Linked DNA regions of Homo sapiens: region 2 is linked to region 1. Evidence: fine-mapped expression QTL. Tissue or cell type: skeletal muscle. Region 1 holds a variant in brackets; the other region holds the start of a gene. All regions are shown on one strand. Distances are between the middles of the regions.

The links. PIP is the estimated chance that this variant, and not a neighbour inherited with it, causes the effect.
Region 2: NDFIP1 starts here. The variant in region 1 is fine-mapped to the expression of NDFIP1 in skeletal muscle (GTEx, PIP 0.91).

The regions. Positions count from the first base shown.
Region 1 is chr5:142,064,882-142,067,563 of GRCh38, forward strand. No RefSeq gene overlaps it. Among named protein-coding and RNA genes, the nearest start is that of NDFIP1, 43 kb to the right of the region's middle. The variant A/G (reference allele first, on the strand shown) is at 1,328.
Region 2 is chr5:142,107,410-142,110,091 of GRCh38, forward strand. NDFIP1 (Nedd4 family interacting protein 1) reads left to right here and starts at 1,370. Exons shown (of 8, transcript NM_030571.4): 1 at 1,370-1,628. The coding sequence starts at 1,566. RefSeq lists an enhancer at 1,121-1,622 and silencers at 1,200-1,469, 1,530-1,659, 1,730-1,799.

The DNA of each region.
Region 1 (2,682 bases):
ACAGAGTCTCTCTCTGTCCCTCAAGCTGGAGTGCAGTGGCGCGATCTTGACTCACTGCAACCTCCACTTCCTGGGTTCAAGCAATTCTCCTGCCTCAGCCTCCCAGGTAGCTGGGATTACAGGTGCAGGCTGCCACGCCCAGCTAATTTTTTGTATTTTTAGTAAAGACGGGGTTTCATTATTTTGGCCAGGCCAGTCTCGAACTCCTGACCTCAGGTGATCCACCTGCCTCGGCCTCCCAAAGTGCCGGGATTACAGGCGTAAGCCACCACGCCCGGCCTTTTTTTTTTTCTTTAACTTTTAAGTTCAAGGGTGCATGTGCTGGTTTGTTGCATAGGTAAACATGTGTCATGGGGGTTTGTTGTTCAGATTATTTCATCACCCAGGTATTAAGCCTAGTACCTGTTAGTTATTTTTCCAGATCCTCTTCTTAAGATTTTCAAGTGAGGAAGTGAAATGAGGGTGGAAAGGCAGAGGAGGGTGCTTTGCTTAGAGACCAGGACAGGTCAGAGACAGGGCATAGGCACAGCTGTGGACTGACCACCCCCTGCCTCCCCAGCCAGAAGTGCCGGGAAATGCAGACATCCCTATTTGGACTCTGGTGCAGTCCTCTGTTGCTATGGCAACTCAGGGGCTCTGTGGTTGGTGGAAGAAGGCAGTGGCTGTGTGGAAATCGGCATTGGAGGCAGCAGCTGTGCCCTTTTGCTCCAGCAGTCTGGGTATTTCTGATGGGGGCAGGGTGGGGATACTCCCTCTGCCATCTCAGGAAGCCACACAGGAGACCCCTGGACTCCACGGCCAATGCCTCTGGCTCAGATCAGCTCCCACCCAGACTCCCTCACAGGGAGGAACCAGGCTTCTGTATGGAGTGGCAATTCCCTTGGCACCCCTACCTTGAGTATCTCCTCAGACCATATATTCCCCTGGGATTTCCTCTTCATTTTCCTCATTGATTCATTCATTCATTTGTTCATTCATTCAGCAAGTATATACCGCACAAAATGCTGGGCCAGAGCAGTGAAAAAGACAGACGAGGCTCCTGCCTTCAGGGAGCCTCCAGTTTAGTTGGGGAGAACACAGCACACAAATAAGTAGAAAGAGAGAGAGACTCAGATGCTAATAAACAGGCGACATGATCCAGAGAAATTAAGGCTGGACTGATTTAGAATGAATGGTCAGGAAAGGTCTTTCTGAAGTTGAGAAGGAGCTACAGGTGTTGGGAGTGGTCCAAGGAAGAGCAAGTGCAAAGGCTCAGAGCGGCGGGCCATGGCATTAGGGGCAGAGAAATGAGGGGGTCAGGGGCAGCAGCAGAAGCCAGGGCTGGAGA[A/G]AGGCGGGCTGGGATAAGCAGAGCCTTGTCATGGAGTCTGGTTTTCACTCTGAAGGCAATAGGAAGCACTGGTTGCCTTTAAGCACAAGAGGGGAGTGATCCCACTGATGCTTTTAAATGCTCCCTCTGCTAGCCTAGGGGACAATGGACTTCCTGCAGGAAGGCAAGAGTTGAAGCAGGGGACCCATGAGGAAACCACTGCGCTGGCCCAGGTGAGAGCTGAAGGGCTGCCTGTGCTGGTATGGATGGAGACAGAGGATTTGCAGGTAAGCCCAGCAGGACTTGCTGAGGGACCGAGGGTGGAGGACAAGGAAAAGGGGACTCAAGGATGACTCCCAGAGTCTGATTGAAACTTGGGTGAGTGGAGGTGCCATCTGTGAAGGGAGGGATGATAGCAGAGGCGGGGGAGAAATTGCACTGCATCTCAGCTCTGTTGGCCTGGATGACACATTCAAGTTATCCAAGAGCATCTTTCATTTTCACCATGAAATCCCTGAGAACTGAAGCATTTTATAAGCAACATTTCTAAAGTGTTAAGTCGAAAGGAAGCTTTCTTACAACACACTAACAGGGAAGAAAGTAATTATGTTAAAAGCTAACTGTTGGATGTCCTAGGTTGGTGGCACAACTCACTTAGGGCAATACCTGCTCTTTTGTAAGATAAACACCTTGATGGGTCATTTTCCGGTGTGGAAGGTGAGATCCTCTTGGACATGATGTGAACTAACTTACTACCTGCCAATCTCTGTGTTCACTGTTTTCAATACATTCTAATTTAACCTCTGTTTTTTATATATTATAATAATAATAATTGTTATTATTATTGTTATTACAGGTGTGAGCCACTGCACCCAGCCAAGAGGAAAATGTCTAAATAAATTATAGTATGTCCATACAATAAAATAGTAATGTGATCATTGTAGAGAATGAAATAGATCTATATACTTTAAGTGGGATTATGTCTAAAACAAAATGTTAAATGAAAAAAGCAAGTTGTAGAGTACACAGAATATGGTCTCATGTAGGAAAACAACAAAAATGACCTCTCCATTAAAAAAATAGTCTCAAGGCTGGGAGCGGTGGCTCGTGCCTATAATCCCAGAACTTTGGGAGGCCAACGCAGGCGGATTGCTTGAGCTTAGGAGTTCGAGACTAGCCTGGGTGACATGGGGAAACCCCATCTGTACACTTGATCTTATCCAAAAGGCCAAGAAGCATTGGGAATCCCATCTCTAAAAAATATTAGCTGGGCATGGTAGCATGCACCTGTGATCCCAGGTGCTTGGGAGGCTGTGGCGGGAGGATTGCTTGAGCCTGAAAGGCGAAGGTTGCAGTGAGCCTGCACTCCAGCCTGG
Region 2 (2,682 bases), 43 kb after region 1:
TCTTTTAAAATACATAATTAACTAAACTTCAAAATTAGAAGCTAAGACAATAATCATATTAATATAACCTCTACACTGCCAACTTGGAAAGGCAATGAAGAAGAAATGGGAATTGCAACAAGCTTCAGAGATGGAAGATTTTGTTTTTCTCTGTAGGACATGTGGGTAGAAGCAATTGCAGATGGCTGGGTGTGAAAGAAACAGACCTTGCAAGCCTGCTATATAGCTATACTGTGCTACATGGCATTGGGAGGTAATAAGATTTAAAAGACAAATACTCTTGTCTTCACAAAGCTTATAATTTAGTTGTGCAATACTGGGTAAGAAAGCTGGCTTAATGGAGTTGTATTCCAGCTTCACCCCTTAGTAGCTCTGTGTCATTGGGTGAGATATTTAATTTCTTTGGGCATAACTTCCTCATCTGTGAAACACTGATAATTGTATCTCCTATATGGCAGCTATGCCAGCCTCCTTTCTGTTCTTCCACAAGACAATCTCTCTCTGGACCGCCCTTTGCACCTGTTCCTGTGGTCGGGAAAGCCTTTAGCATGGCCAAACCCTTCAAGTTTTGACTTCATGTCACCGAGTCAGGGAGCTTTTTTGGAAAATATTGTTTCCGATTCCGCAGATGAGGCTGTTAAAATACTAAAGGATGGCATAAACATGAGGATGCTATTATAATCATCCACCCTAAGTAGGATTTGAGATCCAAGCAGTTCTCAAGGATTTAGGGTTAGCAAACTTTTTCTGTAAAATGTCAGATAGCAAGTATTATAGGGTTTGCAGGCCATACCAAACAAATGGGTGCTGCTGTGTTCCAATAAAACTTTATTTATGGACACTGAAACTTGAATTTCATGTACTTTTCACAGTCATGGTGGCAGACCGGATTTGGCCCCCTCCCTGTCGCTGGCTGACCCCTGGTTTATGAGTACGGCAGATAAAAGAAGGGAGTGAATAAGAACCACGATTCTGCTGCCAGACACGAGGGATCAGGTCGCTGCTGTGAAGATTGTCAACCTCTCTGGTTGCCAACGACCTCGAGAATGGGGTTGTGGTCCCTGCGTCAGGGCGGTTGTGCTGAAGGCTGGATGAGGGCACGTAGGTGAAGCTCAGTGCTTGGCACGAGGTGCTCATCAGCAGCATCGCCCTTGCTTTGGGCTGGCCTGTTAGTAATTCGTTTTTAGTGGAATCGAATACAACACTTGAGCCTCGGAGGCTCAGGTCGTCGGAGCAACTACACCAGGGCCGGTGCACCTCGGGGCGGCGGCGCAGGACTAGGCTAGGCCGGGCCGGGCCGGGCAGGGCGGCGCGAGTCGGGGGTGGGGCGGCGGCGCAGCGCCGTCGTCGTAGTCCCCGCCTCTTCCCCAGGGGCCGCGTCGGAGCCTCGGCGGCGGCGGCGGTGCTTACAGCCTGAGAAGAGCGTCTCGCCCGGGAGCGGCGGCGGCCATCGAGACCCACCCAAGGCGCGTCCCCCTCGGCCTCCCAGCGCTCCCAAGCCGCAGCGGCCGCGCCCCTTCAGCTAGCTCGCTCGCTCGCTCTGCTTCCCTGCTGCCGGCTGCGCCATGGCGTTGGCGTTGGCGGCGCTGGCGGCGGTCGAGCCGGCCTGCGGCAGCCGGTACCAGCAGGTAAGCGGCGCCCGACTCCAGCCCCGAACTCCGGTCCCTGGCTCTGCCCTGCCCGCTGGCCGCCTCAGGCCTCTCTGGCCGGCCCGCGGCCAACTCGACGCCGGGGCTTGGCAGGCCGCGCTGGGCCTGGAGGGGCGGGTCGGGCCCCGGGCTCGGATTCGAGGCTGCCACGGGCCCGGCCTGCCCGTCTGCGACCCCAGGTGGGACTCCGGCGGTGGAAAGTCCTCCTCCCGGCCTCGTTTCCCGCATTTCCCAGGGCGGGCGGGTCCCTGAGTCAGAACCCGCGACCCACAGGCGGCATCGATCTGAGGCATTCGTTTTTCATTTTTCCACCTTTGGTTTGATGTCATTGGAAAAGAAAGAAAGAAAAAAGCATGAAACGGAAACTGGGTGGAGAGAAAAGATTAAAATCTCTGCTGCTGCCGATAGCTCCCCACAGCAAGATGCTATTGCTCAGGGTTTCAGAGCCTAGTTTGTCGAAACCCATCCCCCTCGCCTCCGTTTTAAGACAAAAGTAAAAAATGAAGCAAGAGACAAGCCCGCAGTTTGCAGTAGATTTGGAAGAGGCGATGTTTGGCTGTGGTGATGCCCCAAAAGGGAGAGCTACGATGAAGTCTGCAGGGCGTGTGCCGGGTGTATTTTAAATGCTTGGAAGTGACGTTTTAAGAGATTTGATGGCATAGCTGGGGAGGAAATGTATAGGAAATGATTGGATCATTTTCTCGGGTTTGATTTAATACATTGAGGCCCCAGGGAAAAGAGCTGCTTGTTTCACTCCGCGTCTGTAGCTAAGTTCCCCCAGGAAATTTAGAGACCTTCTGCAGGGTTTTTGGAAGTGTTAATCTAACATACAGTAATGGTGGGAATTGAGCCAGGTGGTAAACTGATGTTGATTGGAACCGCAAATAACGGCTTGTGTTTGTCATGTTTCAGATGCTTTCGGTGCATACAGATGTCAATCCTCCTTTTATCAAATAAAATGTCCTATCTTAGACGATCTACAATTTTATATTTTAGAAGTAAGGAAAGCCAGCCAGTACGATGAAAACGTAGA